Linked DNA regions of Homo sapiens. Each later gene encodes a partner of the first gene's protein in a complex. Each region holds a gene or a part of one and is shown in the gene's direction. Other genes may lie near its edges.

What was found. The genes of interacting proteins can lie anywhere in the genome.
Region 2: the proteins of RAMP2 (region 1) and CALCRL are in contact, whole or in part, in a crystal structure (PDB 3AQF), measured with the Homo sapiens proteins. Residues at the interface, in NP_005845.2 of Homo sapiens: Trp86 (codon at 6,169), Ile89 (codon at 6,178), Tyr93 (codon at 6,323), Ser94 (codon at 6,326), Arg97 (codon at 6,335), Leu109 (codon at 6,371), Gly110 (codon at 6,374), Pro112 (codon at 6,380), Glu117 (codon at 6,395), Ile120 (codon at 6,404), Phe121 (codon at 6,407), His124 (codon at 6,416), Gln125 (codon at 6,419), Phe128 (codon at 6,428), Ala129 (codon at 6,431), Cys131 (codon at 6,437), Ser132 (codon at 6,440), Leu133 (codon at 6,443), Val134 (codon at 6,446); in NP_001258680.1 of Homo sapiens: Arg38, Asn39, Ile41, Met42, Thr43, Gln45, Tyr46, Glu47, Tyr49, Gln50, Lys51, Ile52, Met53, Gln54, Trp69, Asp70, Gly71, Arg119.
Region 3: the proteins of RAMP2 (region 1) and CALCR are in contact, whole or in part, in a cryo-EM structure (PDB 7TYX), measured with the Homo sapiens proteins. Residues at the interface, in NP_005845.2 of Homo sapiens: Trp86 (codon at 6,169), Tyr93 (codon at 6,323), Ser94 (codon at 6,326), Arg97 (codon at 6,335), Asp98 (codon at 6,338), Glu101 (codon at 6,347), Leu109 (codon at 6,371), Pro112 (codon at 6,380), Glu117 (codon at 6,395), Ile120 (codon at 6,404), Phe121 (codon at 6,407), His124 (codon at 6,416), Phe128 (codon at 6,428), Cys131 (codon at 6,437), Pro136 (codon at 6,452), Phe138 (codon at 6,458), Ser139 (codon at 6,461), Asp140 (codon at 6,464), Pro141 (codon at 6,467), Leu146 (codon at 6,482), Met149 (codon at 6,491), Ile150 (codon at 6,494), Pro153 (codon at 6,503), Ile154 (codon at 6,506), Leu156 (codon at 6,512), Ile157 (codon at 6,515), Leu160 (codon at 6,524), Ile161 (codon at 6,527), Leu163 (codon at 6,533), Val164 (codon at 6,536); in NP_001158210.1 of Homo sapiens: Arg45, Lys46, Met48, Met49, Asp50, Gln52, Tyr53, Lys54, Tyr56, Asp57, Met59, Gln60, Trp76, Gly78, Arg126, Phe235, Leu238, Ile242, Thr246, Val250, Glu255, Lys256, Gln257, Arg258, Trp261, Tyr262, Leu264, Leu265, Phe269, Pro273.

Annotation. Positions count from the first base shown.
Region 1 is NC_000017.11:42,756,279-42,763,550, forward strand, and holds RAMP2 (receptor activity-modifying protein 2 precursor), read left to right. Parts: upstream 1-4,948; 5' UTR 4,949-4,983; coding exon 4,984-5,080; intron 5,081-5,555; coding exon 5,556-5,621; intron 5,622-6,076; coding exon 6,077-6,185; intron 6,186-6,318; coding exon 6,319-6,574; 3' UTR 6,575-6,763; downstream 6,764-7,272. UniProt on the Homo sapiens protein: Accessory protein that interacts with and modulates the function of G-protein coupled receptors including calcitonin gene-related peptide type 1 receptor (CALCRL) and calcitonin receptor (CALCR). Required for the transport of CALCRL to the plasma membrane.
Region 2 is NC_000002.12:187,341,464-187,347,279, reverse strand, and holds the end of CALCRL (calcitonin gene-related peptide type 1 receptor precursor), read left to right. Parts: intron 1-880; coding exon 881-1,096; 3' UTR 1,097-5,316; downstream 5,317-5,816. UniProt on the Homo sapiens protein: G protein-coupled receptor which specificity is determined by its interaction with receptor-activity-modifying proteins (RAMPs). Together with RAMP1, form the receptor complex for calcitonin-gene-related peptides CALCA/CGRP1 and CALCB/CGRP2.
Region 3 is NC_000007.14:93,473,725-93,480,751, reverse strand, and holds part of CALCR (calcitonin receptor isoform 2 precursor), read left to right. Parts: intron 1-1,244; coding exon 1,245-1,398; intron 1,399-3,083; coding exon 3,084-3,194; intron 3,195-7,027. UniProt on the Homo sapiens protein: G protein-coupled receptor activated by ligand peptides amylin (IAPP), calcitonin (CT/CALCA) and calcitonin gene-related peptide type 1 (CGRP1/CALCA).

The DNA of each region.
Region 1 (7,272 bases):
ATTTGTGTGTGTGGTGGTGGTGGAAGTTGAAGATTAGAGATGCCACTCTTCCTAAGGGTCAAGTCACCTCTTGCCCTGCTCCAGGCAGGATGACCCTTGGCCTGTAACAAGAAAGGAAGTGGCAGTAGGATGGTAGTAGGATCCCTGCTCATGAGGAATTAACCTACACTGGGGCCAGAAGTCTCAGGACAATGTTCAGCTGGACAAGAACCAGATCCCTCTCTTTCCAAGCCCTAGGTGGTGCGGGGTGGGGGCAGAGGAATAAGGAAATGTGTAAGAAATGTAAAAACTAGATGTATGGCCGGGGGCGGTAGCTCACGCCTGTAATCCCAGCACTTTGGAGGCCGAGGCAGGTGGATCACCTGAGGTCAGGAGTTCGAGACCAGCCTGACCAACATGGTGAAACCCTGTCTCTACTAAAAATACAAAAATTAGCTGGGCGTGGTGGTGGGCGCCTGTAGTCCCAGCTACTCGGGAGGCTGAGGCAGGAGAATCGCTTGAACCCAGGAGACGGAGGTTGCAGTGAGTCGAGATAGCACCATTGCACTCCAGCTTGGGCAACAAGAGCGAAACTCCATCTCAAAAACAAACAAACAACCAAAAAAACAAACAAACTAGATTTCCAGGCCAGGCCCGGTGGCTCACACCTGTAATTCCAGAATTTTGGGAGGCCAAGGTGGGCAGATCACTTAAGGTCTGGAGTTTGAGACAAGCCTGGCCAACATGGTGAAACCCTGTCTCTAGTAAAAATACAAAAATTAGCTGGGCCTTGTAGGGGGCATCTGTAATCCCAGCTACTGGGAGGCTAAGGCAGGAGAATTGCTTGAACCTGGGAGGCGGAGGTTGCAGTGAGCTAAGATCACACCACTGCACTCCAGCCTGGGCAACAGAGCAAGACTCTGTCTCAAAAATAAATAAATAAAAAACAAACAAAGAAAACCCCCTAGATTTCACTGGACATAAGGAAAAAAAAGACTAAAGGCAATACTACGTACAGTTAAAAAGAAAGAGGCATACATACATATGTAGTATCATGGAAAGATATCCAAGACATGTTACTAAGTGTTCCCTCCTTTCCTTCCTTTTTCCCCTTCCCCTTCCCCTTCCCTTCCTTTCTTTCTTCTTTTTCTATTTGGAGACAAGGTCTCACTCTGTAGCCCATGCTGGAATGCAGTGGCATGATCATGGCTCACTGCAGCCTTAAAATTCTGGGCTCAAGGGATCCTCCTGTCTCAGCCTGCTGTGGAGCTGGGACTACAGGCATGTGCCACCAAGCCTGGCTAATTTATTTTTATTTTTTGTAGAGACAGGGTCTTGCCATGTTGCCCAGGCTGGTCTTGAACTCCTGACTTCAAGTGATCCTCCTGCCTTGGTCTTCCAAAGTGTTGGGTTTACAGGTGTGAGGCACTGTGCCTGGCTTCTTTATTATCATTATTATTATTTTAGACAGAGTCTCGCTATATCACCCAGGTTAGTCTCCAATTCCTGGGCTCAAGTTCCTGCTTCAGGCTCCCGAGTAACTGGGATTACAGGCATGAGCTGCATACCCAGCAATAGTATCACATTTTTTAAAAGACACTGAGGCCAGGCACAGTGGCTCACACCTGTAATCCCAGCATTTTGGGAGGCCAAGGCAGGTGGATCCCTTGAGGTCAGGAGTTCAAGACAAGCCTGGCCAACCTGGTGAAACCCTGTCTCTACTAAAATACAAAAATTAGCTGGATGTGGCGGCGTACACATGTAATCCCAGCTGCTCAGGAGGCTGAGGCAGTAGAATCACCTGAACCTGGGAAGCGGAGGTTGCAGTGAGCCAAGATGGCGCCACTGCACTCCAGCCTGGGCAACAGAGCAAGACTCCATCTCAAGAAAAAAAAAAGTCACTGAATAATAGGAGTATCAAATCCCATTTATGCTTTCCTTTAAAAAAATCCAGAATATGTGGGAAATGAGATATGAGTGGGGATACAAAGTTTTCTGGGTTAAATATTTTGCAACAAGTATATACTTACATATTACTTGCAATTTAAAAACTGTATTTTTTAATAGCAAAAGCAGAAAGGGGCTTAGAAAGGGAATGTGAGGGCCCTCAGGAGTGGAAAACAGGGGACTTCCCATGACGAAACTAGCTTCTGTTCCTAATACGGCCCTTCCTCTACCCATTGCTACAGATCATCAGATCGTGGGACTATCTCCTATGGCTACATGGAAAAGAAAGGTGAGGTCTCCTGTCCCTATTCATCTCCAAAGACCCCCAAAGTAAACCCTCAGTTACCCGGATGCTCTCAGAGGTCGATAAAAACATTCAAACATCCAACTGGCATGGAAAAGTGGAAGAGGAAAATCAAAACGAGAGAAAATTCCCAGATTCTCCAATTAGACAGTTTGGACACCTGAGCTCAGGAATGACTACAATAAGTTCTCCTTTGGAGGTCTCAACATCATGATGCAAACTTAACCCCAACCCTAGGCTAAAAATAAAACTTCCCAAGGGCCAGGTGCAGTGGTTCATGCCTGGAATCCCAACACTTTAAGAGACTGATGCAGGAAGATTGCTTGAAGCCAGGAGTTCGAGACCAGCCTCGGCAAAAAAGCAAGACCCCCATATCTACAAAAAATATGCCTGCTGTCCTAGCTACTTGGGAGACTGAACCAGGAGGATCTCTTGAGCCTAGAAGCTCAAGACTGCAGCATGCCATGATTCTTCCACCGCACTCCAATGTGGGCAACAGAGTGAGCCCCTGTTCCTAAAAAGTAAAGTAAGATAAAAATAAAATAGGAACTTCCTACCAAGTTACCTATATTTTCTTTTTTGATCTTAAGGCCATTTTACATATGAAAATCTTGAGCTCCAGAGATGTGAAATAACCTGCTCAAGTTACTTGCAGTAAGACAGAGGCAGAACCTACCTTCAGAATCCTCATCAGTTTTTTTCTTTCATCCGTTATGATTATCCATTATCATTATGCCATATTGTCCTTTTTTTTTTTTTTTGAGATAGGGCACAATCACAGCTCTCTGCAGCCTCAACCTCTGGGGCTCAAGTGATCCTCCTGCCTCAGCCTCCCGAGTAGCTGGGACTACAGGTGCACACCACTATGCCAGGCTAATTTTTTAAAAATTTTTTTATAGTTTTTTTTTTGTAGAGACAGGGTTTCACTATGTTGCCCAGGCTCTATTTTAAATCTAACATTTGCTTTTGTCCCCTTTAATCTTGACCCCAACCCCAGTCCTAACCCATAGTGGGCTCATGTGCTTCTGGCCCCAACCCAGTGAAAATGGCTTGTTTTGCTTTCTGCACCTCCTTGCTCCTTCCTCCCATCTTATCACTCAGAAATCTCCCATGCTTCCTTCTTGAAAGGAGCAATCCTAGGCAGGCAGGAAGGACTAGATTTGGTCCCAGCCTGAAATGTCTCAGAGACTGCATGGCTCTTTTCTGCATCATTGTAGAAATGATCCTTACCAGGAGGACTTTGGAGTTCACGTCAAGCAGGCCATTGACTCTCTCCCACTGGATTCTTTGCAAAAGCAGCCTCTTGACCATAGAGGAGGACAACAGGTTATCCGTGCCCATGATCCAAGAGCTTGAGATCCTGAGATGAAGACTTCAGGAGAGATCAGGACAGATAATTTGTGGTGGGCAGGAATCAGTAAACTGGGACAACAGCAGCAGCTGAGTCCAAGGGTCAGTGTCTGGGAGTAATTTAGGAAAGTTTGGTGCTGACAGCTGTGTCTGGGACTTGAACGTCATGGCCAAACCAGCTCCTGGGCTCCTCAGCTGCTTCAGACTAATGAACCTCTGGCCCAGGACACAAGAAGCAGCTGTGGTGTGGCTGAAGTCAGGACCCCCGGAGGCCCAGACTCAGCCTTGCTGCTTCCTTAACAGTGTGACCTTAGATAAGTCACTTAGGAAAAGAGGAAAGGAAACTAGCATTTAGCGAGTGCAGTGCCCTTTCACAGCTGCCATCATACAGTGAGGAGGGGAATGTCCCTATTTCACATGAGAAGTCCTGAAGGTAAACGTGTCATTCAAGGCTCTATAGCTGGGGAGTAAGAAGACAGAATTAGAACCCAGAGCTTCTGAATTCAAATCCCGGGCTGTTGGCCCTGAGCTTTAGCTTCTCGGTCTGTAAAATGGTGTTACACTCACCTGGCACATGAAGTCGCACACTGAAGGTTCTAAAACCCCTCCATTCTTTCTCCCAACCGTGGTCCTGAAGAGCTGTGGCACCTTCTTCCTGGGAACGTAGTCATCGTATTTTGCCCTCCCCACAACAGGTTTGTGGGGTCTAGGCCCCAGGAGGTGTCTGAAGGGAAGGTATTTGGACTTTGCTTTCCCCTCTACCCCACTCCCCAGACCTTCTCCCGACTCCAGAGGGCTGGCTCCCGCTTCTCCTCCCTGGTTTTGGCTGGCGGACTGACATCAGCTGGTATTCCTAGGGATAGGATAAGGAACCCTGAGCTGCATGGCTCAGCTCCAGGCGCCCCTTCCCCCACAACCCAGGACAGCCCCTTAGAAGCAGCGGCGTCGAGAGGCCGCTGGAGCTCCCAGCCCCCTCCCTCTTCTCCACGTCTGGGAGAGCAGCTTGCCGACCCCTCCAGACCCGAAAGAGAGAGGGGGCGACTCGAATTCGGGGAGCGATCCTGGGAGACCCTGGAGAGTCCTGGGCGCCACGCAGCCGAGCCCCCGAAATAGATCCCGGTTCCGGGGTTCCGGGAGCTGTCCAGCCTCGCGGGGTGAGCTACGAGAGGGTGGGCCAACGCCGGCGAGGCGGAGGGAGCCGCGGGCGCCAGGCGCGGGTGAGGCAGCGACTCCCCCTCCAGCCGCGGGCCCCGAGCGTCGCCCCCGCCCCCCACGTGGCCGCCGCCGTCCCAGCCCCTCCGAGGAAGCGGCGCGGCTTCCTGCAGCTTGGGCTGGGGATATAGGCGCCCCCACACCCGGGCCCGGCTCAGCGCCGCCGCCGCTCCTCGCCTCCTTGCTGCACGATGGCCTCGCTCCGGGTGGAGCGCGCCGGCGGCCCGCGTCTCCCTAGGACCCGAGTCGGGCGGCCGGCAGCGCTCCGCCTCCTCCTCCTGCTGGGCGGTGAGCGCGGCGCCCCGAGGCCCGGGCGGGAGGCGCGAGAGGCCCCGGAGGGGAGAGGGGAGAGGGGAGAGGGGCTGGATGGCCGAGGCCGGAACGGGCCCTGGGGTGCGGGTTAGGACCGACGTACCTAGCAGCACTGGCCCTCGGACGGTCCCTGACCCCACCTCGGGGCGGGCGCAGCATGAGCTGCTTCCCACCCAGGGAAAGCTGGGGTGCTGGCCCCGGCCCCTCGAAGAGGGCTTAGGAGGACGGAAGCTGGCCAGAGATGAGGGGGCTTTGGGCCTGGGTGTGAGTGACAAGGAGCTGGTGCCAGCCCCTCCCTCCCCGGCACTGAGGCGTCCGTGGGGGCTAGATTATTCCTCCTTTTCTTCCAAGGTAGCCTATTTTCGGAGGGTCTCAGTCCCCCAACCCCCCTCGCAGGCTCCACTGCCGGGGTCCCCGCTATGTTACCCTCCTCTCCCGTTTCTTCCCACAGCTGTCCTGAATCCCCACGAGGCCCTGGCTCAGCCTCTTCCCACCACAGGCACACCAGGGTCAGAAGGTGGGTACCCAGGGTGTGGAAGGGTGGCCGAGGGTAAGGACGAGAGCAAGTTCAGTGGGGAGGGTTCCTTTCCCACGAGGCCTGCCCAACCCCAGCTGATGCCCCACTACACTCCCCTCTGTTCTTTCTTGGGGTTCCTCGTGGTCTTTCTCCCTGTCCTCCTACAAAGCCCCTGCACGGCTCTGAGCTGCCCACCTCACAAGTGGGCGAGAAGACCCCAGGAAAAGGTGTACGTGGAAGTTCTTATCAGGCTGGGATGGAAAGTGCTTAGCACATGGAAGTCATTATAGGATTCCTGAGCTGGGACTCTGTCCTCAGCCAGAATGTTTTGCTAGGGAAACTTTCTGAAGGGTTCCCACGTTTGAAGACAGGCAGTTCACCTTGCAAGCACCTGGGCAGGAGGGTTTGTAGGGAGGGGTAGGGGTGTGGTCATTGTGTAGCATCTGTACCTACAGGGGGGACGGTGAAGAACTATGAGACAGCTGTCCAATTTTGCTGGAATCATTATAAGGATCAAATGGATCCTATCGAAAAGGATTGGTGCGACTGGGCCATGATTAGCAGGTAGGGGCAGTGATGGAGGGTGGCTCAGGCCAGGGGGTGGACCTGCTCATTGCAGGTAGACCCTGAGTGAGAGTGGGGCACTCTTCTCCCTGGGTCCACCCCCTCTCTCACTCAAGTCCTCTTCTGCCCCTAGGCCTTATAGCACCCTGCGAGATTGCCTGGAGCACTTTGCAGAGTTGTTTGACCTGGGCTTCCCCAATCCCTTGGCAGAGAGGATCATCTTTGAGACTCACCAGATCCACTTTGCCAACTGCTCCCTGGTGCAGCCCACCTTCTCTGACCCCCCAGAGGATGTACTCCTGGCCATGATCATAGCCCCCATCTGCCTCATCCCCTTCCTCATCACTCTTGTAGTATGGAGGAGTAAAGACAGTGAGGCCCAGGCCTAGGGGGCCACGAGCTTCTCAACAACCATGTTACTCCACTTCCCCACCCCCACCAGGCCTCCCTCCTCCCCTCCTACTCCCTTTTCTCACTCTCATCCCCACCACAGATCCCTGGATTGCTGGGAATGGAAGCCAGGTGGGGTCATGGCACAAGTTCTGTAATCTTCAAAATAAAACTTTTTTTTTGTACAATGTCCTTCTCCCCATTTCAGTGGAACCTGTGTCCTTCCCTGCCACTGCCACAGGCCCTCAGCCCTGGGTAGTAGAACTGGAAAAATCTGGATGGCCCATTGTTCTGTTCATTTCACCTGCCCCCCTGCTCCCTGCCTCCATGAAGGTCACACCCCTATATTCTTTCCTCCCAGGCGGGCCTTTCCTGCCTATATCCAAACTCGGCTCCAGGAAACAAGCAGGAAGAGACTCCCTTCCGGTCTGGACAGCAGCTGGGGGCCTGCAACTGGGGAGGTGTGGGGGAAGGGGCAAGGGAGGAATCTCTGCTTGTGACTCCTGCAAGAGGAGCAGGAGGCTGCCCAGGAGCCCTGACTATTCCTCTTCTTCATGCTTCAGTTTACTCACAGGGCCTGGGAAGAGGAACCCTGACTGAGCAACAGGAATCCATTCCTAAGGCCCTCACAATTGAGGGAGAAAGCAGTGGGGGCTTCCTTTACTAGGTTCACCACCCCTCTCCATGTCCCTTGCCC
Region 2 (5,816 bases), on another chromosome or scaffold:
CATCAGACATGGAAAAGTCCTCAACGTACTTGAGCTAGAGATGTATTTAAATGTTCTCATTTGTGCCCATTGACTGACAATGAAGAAAATTCACTCTTGTGCCTTACATTCCATTATGACCAATATTTTACTGTATAGGACCCACCTACCCCTGATCTCTAGCTTCAAACAGAGGGGAAGGAAGTCATTAAACTGCAAATTTATTCAGCAGAAGAGGATTCAAATATATAAAAATGGAGTGGTTACATTCCTAAATTTATTTTTCACAATATTCACCAGATTTATAATTATTTGTTCAACACTTTTCTTTCCTCTATGTAGTAAGCTCCATGAAGACAAATATCATGCTCCCTTTTTTAGAATGTAGCACAATTTCTGGCATATGGGAGTCACTCAGAAACAAAGGTTGCTGCTACTGCCCTGCTGCTGCTGCTGCTGATTTGTATTCTTCGTATCCTAACTTCTTTTCTTTTGTGTATCTTTCGCTTATCCTGTCACGAATTGTCTTCTCATTCTATTAATAAAGACATTAATATAAAACTCAATGTTGCACATGAAATCTTGTAAATGGGGGTCCAGATTACCTATTTGTTTGGCAACAATAAATACATATGAATTATAAAAGCTTTGAAGACAAAACATGCCATGAAAAATATTAATGGAATGTAAAGTACAATGTAATTGTAATACATTTCCTAATGTGAAGATGGTACACTTAATTTTTTAAATTAAGAAAATGAAGCTATATTATTCACTGATTAACATAACTTTTTTTAAAAAAGCTCTTCTCCAAGACCTATTTAATTGTGCTTCAAAAACAGTGTCTTCATTTCAATTAATGGGTTGTTCTTGTTCTTTCTGTTTTCCTTTTGATTGATAGGTTCAAGCAATTCTGAGAAGAAACTGGAATCAATACAAAATCCAATTTGGAAACAGCTTTTCCAACTCAGAAGCTCTTCGTAGTGCGTCTTACACAGTGTCAACAATCAGTGATGGTCCAGGTTATAGTCATGACTGTCCTAGTGAACACTTAAATGGAAAAAGCATCCATGATATTGAAAATGTTCTCTTAAAACCAGAAAATTTATATAATTGAAAATAGAAGGATGGTTGTCTCACTGTTTTGTGCTTCTCCTAACTCAAGGACTTGGACCCATGACTCTGTAGCCAGAAGACTTCAATATTAAATGACTTTTTGAATGTCATAAAGAAGAGCCTTCACATGAAATTAGTAGTGTGTTGATAAGAGTGTAACATCCAGCTCTATGTGGGAAAAAAGAAATCCTGGTTTGTAATGTTTGTCAGTAAATACTCCCACTATGCCTGATGTGACGCTACTAACCTGACATCACCAAGTGTGGAATTGGAGAAAAGCACAATCAACTTTTCTGAGCTGGTGTAAGCCAGTTCCAGCACACCATTGCATGAATTCACAAACAAATGGCTGTAAAACTAAACATACATGTTGGGCATGATTCTACCCTTATTGCCCCAAGAGACCTAGCTAAGGTCTATAAACATGAAGGGAAAATTAGCTTTTAGTTTTAAAACTCTTTATCCCATCTTGATTGGGGCAGTTGACTTTTTTTTTGCCCAGAGTGCCGTAGTCCTTTTTGTAACTACCCTCTCAAATGGACAATACCAGAAGTGAATTATCCCTGCTGGCTTTCTTTTCTCTATGAAAAGCAACTGAGTACAATTGTTATGATCTACTCATTTGCTGACACATCAGTTATATCTTGTGGCATATCCATTGTGGAAACTGGATGAACAGGATGTATAATATGCAATCCTACTTCTATATCATTAGGAAAACATCTTAGTTGATGCTACAAAACACCTTGTCAACCTCTTCCTGTCTTACCAAACAGTGGGAGGGAATTCCTAGCTGTAAATATAAATTTTGTCCCTTCCATTTCTACTGTATAAACAAATTAGCAATCATTTTATATAAAGAAAATCAATGAAGGATTTCTTATTTTCTTGGAATTTTGTAAAAAGAAATTGTGAAAAATGAGCTTGTAAATACTCCATTATTTTATTTTATAGTCTCAAATCAAATACATACAACCTATGTAATTTTTAAAGCAAATATATAATGCAACAATGTGTGTATGTTAATATCTGATACTGTATCTGGGCTGATTTTTTAAATAAAATAGAGTCTGGAATGCTATATTTGGTAAATATTTTAAAGACAACCAGATGCCAGCATCAGAAGTCTGTTTGAGAACTAAGAGAACAGAAACATCTATCATAAGATATATTTATTTTAAAAACACAAGGTCACTATTTTATTGAATATATTTGTTTTGATAACTCATACCTTAATAATAGGTGTGTTTGACATATTTCTTTTTTCATTTTGACAATGAACTCACATTCTAATCCAGAAATTTTAAACAACTACTGTGATAAATACCAATCTGCTACTTTTATAGATTTTACCCCATTAAAATATTACTTTACTGACTTTTACTATGTGAAGATATATAGCTTTGGAAATGTCCCAGGCTATTCAAGAAATATAAAAAACTAGAAGGATACTATATATACCATATACAATGCTTTAATATTTTAATAGAGCTACTGTATATAATACAAATTAGGGAAATACTTGAATATATCATTGAGAAAAAATTATTGTCAGATCTTACTGAATTATTGTCAGACTTTATTAAATAAAGATAGAAGAAAACCTTGCTAATGAATTAAAGTGAAATTTGCATGGGATTCAGTTTCTCTAATGTTATTTTCCGCTGAAATCTCTAAAGAACAAGAATGACTTCAATTAGTAAAAGTCAATTTTGGGAAAAGTCATGGGTATCTGTTTTTTAAGTGTGTCAATCTGATTAAAATGGATGAAACAAATTACTCATCATAAGTTGTTTCTTAAGCTGTCAATATGTCAATAGATGGTGAGTTCAGAACTTATTTCAAATTGCTAAGACAAATTATCTAAATTCGTAAGAATTAACATATAGAATGGTCTGGTCAGTACATTTATAATTTATCTATGCATGAAAAAGTATTGTTTTGTTTGAAACATGAATTTCATAGCAAGCTGCCATAGAAAGGAACGCAGGCTGTTCTAGACCTTCAACTGCCTAAATTATACAAAAATTCATTTTAATAAACTCAATTATTAGCTATTTATTATTCAAAGACCCATATTTAAATCCTTTGCTGACCATGTTGACATATATCAGCCTTCTTCTAGACAAACTGTCAACTCTCAACCATCTTGACAGTAGAAGTGACAGTAAAAAATGTTGAATGATCAGAGATTATATTAAAATAAACATGTAATTTTCAAGTATTTTTGTTGTGCTTTTATAATATTAATTCTAGATCAGATTTATTTTATAGCCAGGGTTTGTCTGTTGTAGAGTCTTGAGGCGTAGCAGTCATTCATGATTAATCACTGTTAGTTTTGTACCCATATATTTTTAGAATAGTTTTAAATGTTAGATTTCTCAAAAGCTAAATGCTACTTAATATCTTTGTATCATACTCATAAAGCAAAGTAAATCTGACACTTTTTTTAAAGCAAACTTCTTTGCTGTCAAAAAAATAAATTTGGGGAAATTTCTAGCTTTTAAAATGTAGATCTGCATTTTACTGTGATTACTTGTGAAAGTCATATTTTAATTTTCTAAATTCTAATTTGTCATTTTATTTCCTAAAGTTAATTTCCAATGCATTTATTCATAAAATATTCATTCTGGAATGCAGTGTTTGTTTAAATGTAATCCAATGTATATAGAATTAGTGGTGGCTGTAGTGCTGTATTTATTGCTTATAATTTTTTTTAAATGTGAACTTACTTTTAATTTTCTCTTGGTTTTAATCTGCTAGTAGAAACCACTAGTTATCTGTAAAAATATATTCAAGATATTCTGATCAATTATAACAATTTATGTTATGCCTAGAGTATATCTCTATTTTTTGATTGTATGAAAATATTAAAGTTATGAGTTAAAGTTTATTTTCACTGATATTTACTACAGTGCCAAATAATCTAATTTATAAACATAATTCTTACAGTAATCAATGGGATACTTCTCAAAATTAACAAATCTCTTAACAAAATATATCTTTTGCCCTCTTTAAAGTCTTCAGTAAACCAGTAAATGAATTCAATAAACCAATTAAGAAAAAGTCATGATTTGTTTTTCAAACTAAAAAAATCCAACTATACTACAATGGATGCAAACTCCTTCTTATGCTGAAAGAAGAAAAAGGATGTCTCAAAATAAGAAAATGTTCAGAAATTCATCTCCTTTATCTACTATATTTCATTTTGTAGTTTTGTTTAAATATTAGAAAGAAAAATAAGTATTTAAAGGTAATTTTTAAAGAGGGCATATTCATGGCTCTCACACAAATATAAAATGAAAATGTTTCAAAGATTTCGTTTAACTCATTAATTAATGAAGGAACAAGTAAGATGTTACAAAAATTCAAAGGAGAATTCAAAATATCACACTATATGAGAATATTAAAAATGTTGAAATAAATTTATAAATAAGTGCAAAACCACTCTATCCTTAGGGCAATAATCAGTTGCATTCCACTTAATAACTAATTTTTATTTTTATGATCAATAATAATGTACATCATTTTCTGTTTTCTGGAGAAAATGCCCATTTAAAACACTTGTGTTTTTTTCTTATAATCTCTCCTCCTTGTGATTATACTAATCTCAAAGAAAGAATATTCTTGATTAAAAATATTGCTAGTTTAATAAGGTTTGGCCTATTGTTGAGATAGGTACATGAGAGTGTTAATTACAATATAGACCTCCTCAAGTTGGTTTTACAAATCTAGAACCATAGTGCACTTTTTAACAGCTTCATTGAGATATACTTGACATATCATATAATACTTCATATTCAAAGCAGTTTTTAGTATATTAGTAGAGTATATTTTAATACATCCATAGAGACACGCTACCATCACCAATTTCATTACATTTTTATGACCTTGAGAAGAAACAGTGTATCCTTTAGCCATCACTTCTCTATCCCTCTATCTCTACTTTCATTTCAGCTATAAACATCACTAATTTACATTCTGTCTCAACAGATTTCCCTATTCTAGACTTTCATATGATTGTAATCATATAGTATGTGACCTTTTGTGACTAAATGATTTCACTTATGTTTTTAAAATTCATTCATGTTTTGGCATGTATCAATGTTTCCTTTTATTCCATTGGGTGAACATACCACATTTTATTTATTCATTTGTCTGTTGATGGATATGTTTGTTTTGCTTTTACCTTTTGGTTATTATAAATAATATACCTATAAACATTTGTTTGCAAGTTTTTGTTTGTAAAAAAGTTTTCATTTCTTTTCAGGACATTTGCAAAACAGCCAGATCATTTTACATTCCCACCAGCAGTGTATGAAGGGTTCTGAATTCTCCATTTTTCTCAACACTTGTTATTACCTGTCTTTTTTATTTTAGACATCCTAATGGATGTGAAATGGTACCTGGTAGTTTAATTTTCATTTCTCTGATGGTTAAAGATGTCAAGCATCTATTGGCCATGTGTAATCTTTTTTGGAGGAATATTTATTCAGATTATTGGTCCATTATTAATTTGGTTGTCTTTTTATTATTGATATATATATATATCAATATGTATATATATATAGTCTCACACACTCACATCTGCAAATATATATGTATAGGTCTCTTTTCAGATAATTTGCAAATACTTTCTCCCATTCTGTGAATTGTCTTGTCCCTTTCTTAATTGTGTCCTTTGATGCATAAAAGGTAACAATTATTTATTAAGTACATTT
Region 3 (7,027 bases), on another chromosome or scaffold:
TCCTGAATATTTTTGCTCCCTACTCTCTCCAAACTCTGAATTTTGATTGGATTCTGTGCTGGACAGCTTAGCAGTTAGTGATGTGCTGTCGTGTAGGACATATACAATGACACACATGGAAAACAGTGAGGATTCACCATGAAGAGCCAGGAATATACATGTCAACTTAATAGGGATGAGTTTTGTTTAGAAACTAGCACATATAGAAGAGTACATAACACCACTTCTGCCATCAATACAATTGGAGAAACTTCAATCTTAGAATTGAAATTTCAACGGGTATGATAGAAATTAAGCAGCATTCCTAAATTTAGAAAAAGGAAAGTCAGTGCAGGCTGATGTTTTTAGGTCTCCTCAAAAAAAGAAAAAAAAATCTCTATGCAGAACATGGATATTAAAAATTCGCAGATTCCAACACCACTAAAAACATTGGTCATAGCCACAAAAGAAATTGAAATCTTTATAAACACAAGTTAGGAAGAACAGTGTGACAGAGTGATCTTTTCAAACACCCACATTACCTTTGAAAAAGAGAGGCTTGTGATGGTGATGATTAACTGAAACTGAAAAAAACTATTGTCAATCTGTACCAAAATGCAAATGTGCTGAGATAAATATCTAAGAAATACATTGATTTTTCATTAGTGAACATGAATTGCCCTGTACAGGTCATCTGCTGTTGAAACCAATTTAAGGAGATTATGGTCAATTATGAGGAGCAGAAAACATATTTTGTTTGTTCCATGGAATAGATGGGATAAATTTCTGGCAGTGTACACAGCACCAATAAAATTTAGCTGAAAGAATCAAATAAAAAAGCATATTTATTGAACTATGTCTATTTTTTAATAACATGATTCATGATTCTTAAGAGTAAGGCAAAGTTGATTTCATATTTGTATTTTTTGGAAATTAGATTATTTGTTTTGTTTACTTCTAAACTTTAGAATCATAATACAGTTAAAACAATCCTAGCTGATAAAGAGGTATATGAGTGTGTAGGTGTTATCCATTTTCAATAGTAAATGGAAACTAATGCAAATGTAAAATGTGCCAGTAGAATTTGTAGATGAAATGTGAAAACATTTTTTGTAATATATATGAAAAAAACTGTACATAGAGACCATGAATAAGTATTGCTTAGAGAGCAAAAATAAATGTTTTCAAACTTTTTCATTGTCTCATTTATTTGTGCTCACCCATTCCTCCTGTCTATAAGTAACTGATTTTTCTTTTTAATACAGCACCCAACCCCAATTCTTCCTGCCTTTTCAAATCAAACCTATCCAACAATAGAGCCCAAGCCATTTCTTTACGTCGTAGGACGAAAGAAGATGATGGATGCACAGTACAAATGCTATGACCGAATGCAGCAGTTACCCGCATACCAAGGAGAAGGTAAAGAGAAGGATATATATGAACATATGTTTGAAACACCATTACAGACATTTTCTTTTGTGGTTAAATATGTGTTGAATAATTTTAATTTAATATGCCAGCAGTTTTCACAGCAGTTTTCACACTATGGTATGTTTGTGTATTTCATGCAGTGCATATGCCTAATTTCTTTGCCCAAGTTCATCTGACTGCAATTTGGCTAACATCTGCCCTCATGATAAAATTACCGCAATAATTCAGTATTCACACCTGGTGAGCCGGAACAGTAAAGGACCGAGTGAGGGAGGGGATGTACAAAATGACAGGAAAGGGAATTGGAAAATAGAGGGCAGAGAATTTGCCTGAGGTGGACCCTATCAAACCCTATCTTGCTTGGATTAATTAGGTAGTATCTTCCCTTTAACTGTCAATTGGTTGGCAACCCATACTATTCTTCCACACTTTCTGGCCCCACTTTCCAGGAGAATTACAAAAAGGTACCTCCTAGCCAGACATTGTTTATCTACCAGCTTCTCTAGAATGGCTGTATGTGACTGCCCAGATATTTTCAGGTCTAAACATATTCTATTAGCTGTAGAGGACCCATAGAAAAACAAAAGGGGAGATGTGATGGGCAAGCTCATTGCAACATCCCTTTAAATTCTCCTACTTGTCCCCTGAGGCATTTGAAAAGATTCAATAAGATCTTTTACTATATATATATATATATATATATATTTAAGACAGGGTCTCACTCTCTCGCCCAGGACGATCCTCCCACTTTAGCCTCCTGAGCAGTTGGGACTACAGGTGCATGCCACCATGCCCAGCAAATTTTTGTATTTTTTTGTAGAGATGGGGTTTTGCCATGTTGTCCATGCTGGTCTCCAACTCCTGGGCTCAGGAGAGGTTCCCAAAGTGCTAGGATTACAGGCGTGAGACACTGCATCTGGCCTACTACCATGTACATTTTAAGACAACCCAACTTGGTAGGGAAAAAAATGGTAAAATATACTCTGTTACTGCACATTCTTTGCTTTCAAATAGTTCAAGTTTTAGTTTGTAGTTCTTATTTTTACCATTTTCCTTTAAACAAAAACATCAAGTCAACTGAAAGGCAGATACATATTATTCTTCTGTCTGCAGTAATTTCAGTGTTTATCAAGAACTGAACAGGCATTAGACATAACTCTGACCAAAGGAGAAACAATTTCGTTGAAGCCAGTGAGACAATAAAAACACAGAACTGATATTTTTGGGGTTTTCTGAGAGCTCTTTTCATTTTTTAAATAATTTTTGAGAGCTTTCTTGAAAGCCTGGATCTGATTCTTTTGAATACATACCTTTATAGAAGTAAATCTTCATGGTTTTAGGTAGAATTTTTTTTTTTTTTTTTTTTTTTTTTTTTTTTTTGAGAGAGGGTCTTGCAGTCTTTGGGGCATTTGCTTTTTTGATGCACTCAACTTTGGAACCTTTTACAAAGTAGAAATAGAACCCTGCTTGTCATCCAATGAGATAATTTGGTCACAGATATGCTAAGCCTATTTGAAACTTTATTTCCAAAATAAATGACTTGGCTTGTTTGAAATGTGGTTGGTTATGACTGGTGTAGTGAGCTCAGCTACTTGTAATATCGTCTTGGGATCAATCTTCTCATTTAGTTAAATCCACAAGGCTTCAATATCAATTTCCTTCTAAATGGCCAGGTCCATATTGCAATCGCACCTGGGATGGATGGCTGTGCTGGGATGACACACCGGCTGGAGTATTGTCCTATCAGTTCTGCCCAGATTATTTTCCGGATTTTGATCCATCAGGTAGAGTGTTTATTTTCATTTTATGTTCTTGCTATGAAGCTTTTAGAGTTTTCATGGTTTTGAGAAGAAAATCAGATACAAAATGTACCCACCTAATCATACTCCACATTTTAGCAACTTCTGAAGTGTTTCCTTAATTGAAATACTTCTTAGTTGTACAAATATTACAAGCTGTCCTTTTTTTTAAGTCATGTTGCTGGTCAGTTATATGTGTTGGTATTAAATTCTGGTTTATAAAAATAGCTTTTCTAAAACTCTGTGAATAGTTTTATTTAAATGTGAGTTTTAAAAATTTTTCAATTGTCTCACTGAAAAAGGGGTAGAAATCTTAATTATGAAGGAGACCCAGATGCTGAAACTAAATGGATTAGCTATGGGCACAACATATAGGTCCCTGTTAATGGGTGAAATTTGTTCCCAAGAGTAAAGTGAGCCTGAGCCTACAGGGGTTAAGTGGCTCTAGAATCCCAATTAAAGAAGAAAAATGAGTCTACCCCTGAAACAATGTTAGAAAAATGCTTTTTGTGCTTCCTTCCAGAGTGAAAGATCTAATCTGTCCCTGAAAACAAAATTTCACCTCAGTAAGGCAGAGATAATGGAAGTGGAATTGCAGAGGACCTCTTTTAAAACCAGTGCAGGCCAGCCACTTCTGGGAATTCCCATTGTGATGGAAAAGTTGGGATGTGAAGAAAGAAAGGGCTTTGTGCTGTGCCCTAAATCAGCTACATTCCTGGAATCTCTAACTAAATGCTATTTGATGATAATCCTTCAGGCCCTTATTGACTCTTCCCAATGAATGATGCTTCATTAATCTTGATTTGACAACTACATTAGAAGTTACTTGATTGGCACGAAGAGCTGTTGTGCAATTGAGGCTACTAGGCCAGTTCCAAAGTAACAATGGGGCTCTTGCCAAAGTGGATATAAATAGTGACTACAAGGCAAGGTTTTGATAAAAAAATCAGAGATTTACAGGCATCGATCCATCTTTTCAGCCTGGTTCTTATACAGAAACCTCTCAGCTGCAGGATAAATTCATTTTAAAAGTGTATCTGAAATATATACATATATTCCAAACTTAAATTATAAACATATACATAACATAATATATATATACACATACACACACATACCAAACTTAAATTCTTCAGGATTTTCTTATTGACCTAAAGCTTACATCTTAATGATGTACAAAACACATTAATGAAATGCCAGAGGTTTGTTTCACTTTGGAAAAAGTACTTGGTAAAAGATAGTGAAAGAGTGAAGAACTGTATTGAAATTCAAAAGAGGCTGACATTCTGAAGGAATATGCTGGAATGTAAAAAGCAAAATTTAACAAGGAAGCATTTACAGCCCTGCACTTGAAGACAAACAAACAATTTTAATGGCACAGAGCCATTAAATGGTCCAAATATGGTTTGGGACGGTGATTCTCAACCCAGATGCCCTTTCACAAAATGAAAAAAAAAATTGTGAGCTTATGAAAAATGCAGATGCCTGACCCCTGTCCAGATCAATAGAATTTGAATCTCTAGGGACAGGACCTCGGAATCTGCAAGTAGTTCCCCTGCGTGAATCTGGAGTGAGAGAAGCACATTGTACTTTTCATGGGTCAGTCCACACATAGAGTATTTTAGAGAGAAATATCAATTATCAAAGCACATGTGGAGAGTCTCCAGGCTGTTAGCGGAAAATCTGTGGGGAGTGAATAATGGGGGTGTTTGGTTTCTAAAGGGAAGTCCCAGAGTAAACATAATCCTTTCTTCAAGTATTGAAAGACTCATCAGGTGAAGTAGGACAAATTCTTGATAGTTATAACAGTTAAAACCAAGAAATGACTCGATCCAGACTTTAGTTAAAACAAAACAAAAAATACCATTTGCTATGGCCTTGTTCATGAGTGGAATGACCTTCTTTAAGAGTAGTATCTCTCTGCATACAATATATTTTCCCATACCTGGCTGCATAACTTCATTGAAACCAAATTACATTCATTTTATTTAAAAAAAAAACTACTTTCTGCAATCTAATAAATATAAATTGTGGCCACTTTTAAAAATTGCAAGTAAGCTTGGAAGGGTTGTCATTGACAAATAACATTAGCAAAATAATCGACAAATTTTCAACATCAATTTTTTGTGCTGATTAGTGCTAATCCTTTTTCACATGTTGTTAATGTCCAATAGAGATGCTTTAAATAGGGTTTGTCTAGTGGCTATCTCAGTAAATTTACAGTTTTAAGTTTTCTTATTTAACTTTGTAACAGATTTACATGAAGCAGTAATGATTCTAATAGGTTGCTTGAAAACATCTTTTGCTTGAAAAAATGTTTTTTCATCCATTTTAAATAAAAATTAAACATACAAATAACTCTATAACCTGCAGTTTAAATCTTGCATTTAGTTCAATAAGACCTGTTTTGGTCATACAATAAAAAATGATGAATTATACCTAAAAATTGCCAAGTTGAAAGGATTTTTTTACTAGCTCTTAGCAGATTGAGTAACCAAAACTACTAATAGAAAATTATTTTAAATATTATCAGATCTCAGTGATTTTTCAGCCCAATAAGTTTCTCTTTTCTTTAGTATGTTATTTCCTTAGCCTTTTAAACAATAGCAGTGTTCTTCAAATATTACCATATGATTCTGATTTCCACATCCTGTGCTAAAAAAGAACATAGCCATCTATAAAAGCATTATCTATACGTACAACAATGCTTTGCCTTTGTTAACATAGAAAAATGCTTCAAAAATATTTTCCCTGAGAAATGATCAAAGATTAAAATTTTGTGAAGATTCCAAATACACTTGCAAAATCTCCCTGCATATTATACCAATCTAGGCTTGCTATTTGATCTCTCAGACAATAAACACATCGAATGGGTGCTTTGAAGAACTGGAGAGTATCTGAATAACTCAGATTAAATTTGGCAAGTACATTCATTTTAGTGTTTACTTGTTCATTATTTCTATGTTATTTAATTCAACCTGATTTTTTCTTTCAGTTGCTTGGCCAATTCAGAGGTTAGAATTTAAATATTATCTTGTAGCTAACAACATTATCTAAAATTCTTTAGGTCACTGGAATGGAATGTAGATAACCTTGATCATTTATGAGATTTCACCTTCTAGAGTCCCAGTACCAAATTAAAATATTGTTGACCAGTATTATAATACAAAAGCGAGGTTTTTTTTAGACAATCCAGCCAAATTCTAATTTTATTTCAGTGCCATTTTAGTTGTTTGCTAACAATTATACTAGTTTTACAGTGTGTTTATCCTGCTGATAATAGTGTCTTGATAAATATTATCTCACCATTCTGACCACTTTTTACTCCCAATATATATTGATGTGATTTCCCAGCCTCATGCACTTTACCCAGAATCTCAGATATATACTCAGTTAATAATTAAGCAAAATACAGAACAAAGAAGTTTTCTTATTTATTTTTAAGATGGAGCACTTGATGTAGGGTCTGGTATATTTTAAGTTATCAAATGTTATTTTAAAAAATTATTGTAGTTGCTATGGTGGCCTAATATTTTAGTGTGAATTTCAGCAAAGATATGAGTCATCCCCATGAGAACTTATTATTTCTATCAAGTTTGGAACTTTACTTTGTACTGATACATATACACTGCCTAAAAAAATTAAAATAAAAAAAGCAGCAAGGCTTTATCATACTGTAACCAGCACTGAATATATCACACAAAAATAATTGAAAAAATAATAAGCCTGATGGGAACCAGCAGACACCACAAAGCAAGCACTTGGAAAAAGTTCTTTCTCAGGGCTCAAAGAAAATCTTCTTATCCTTTTCCTCCAAA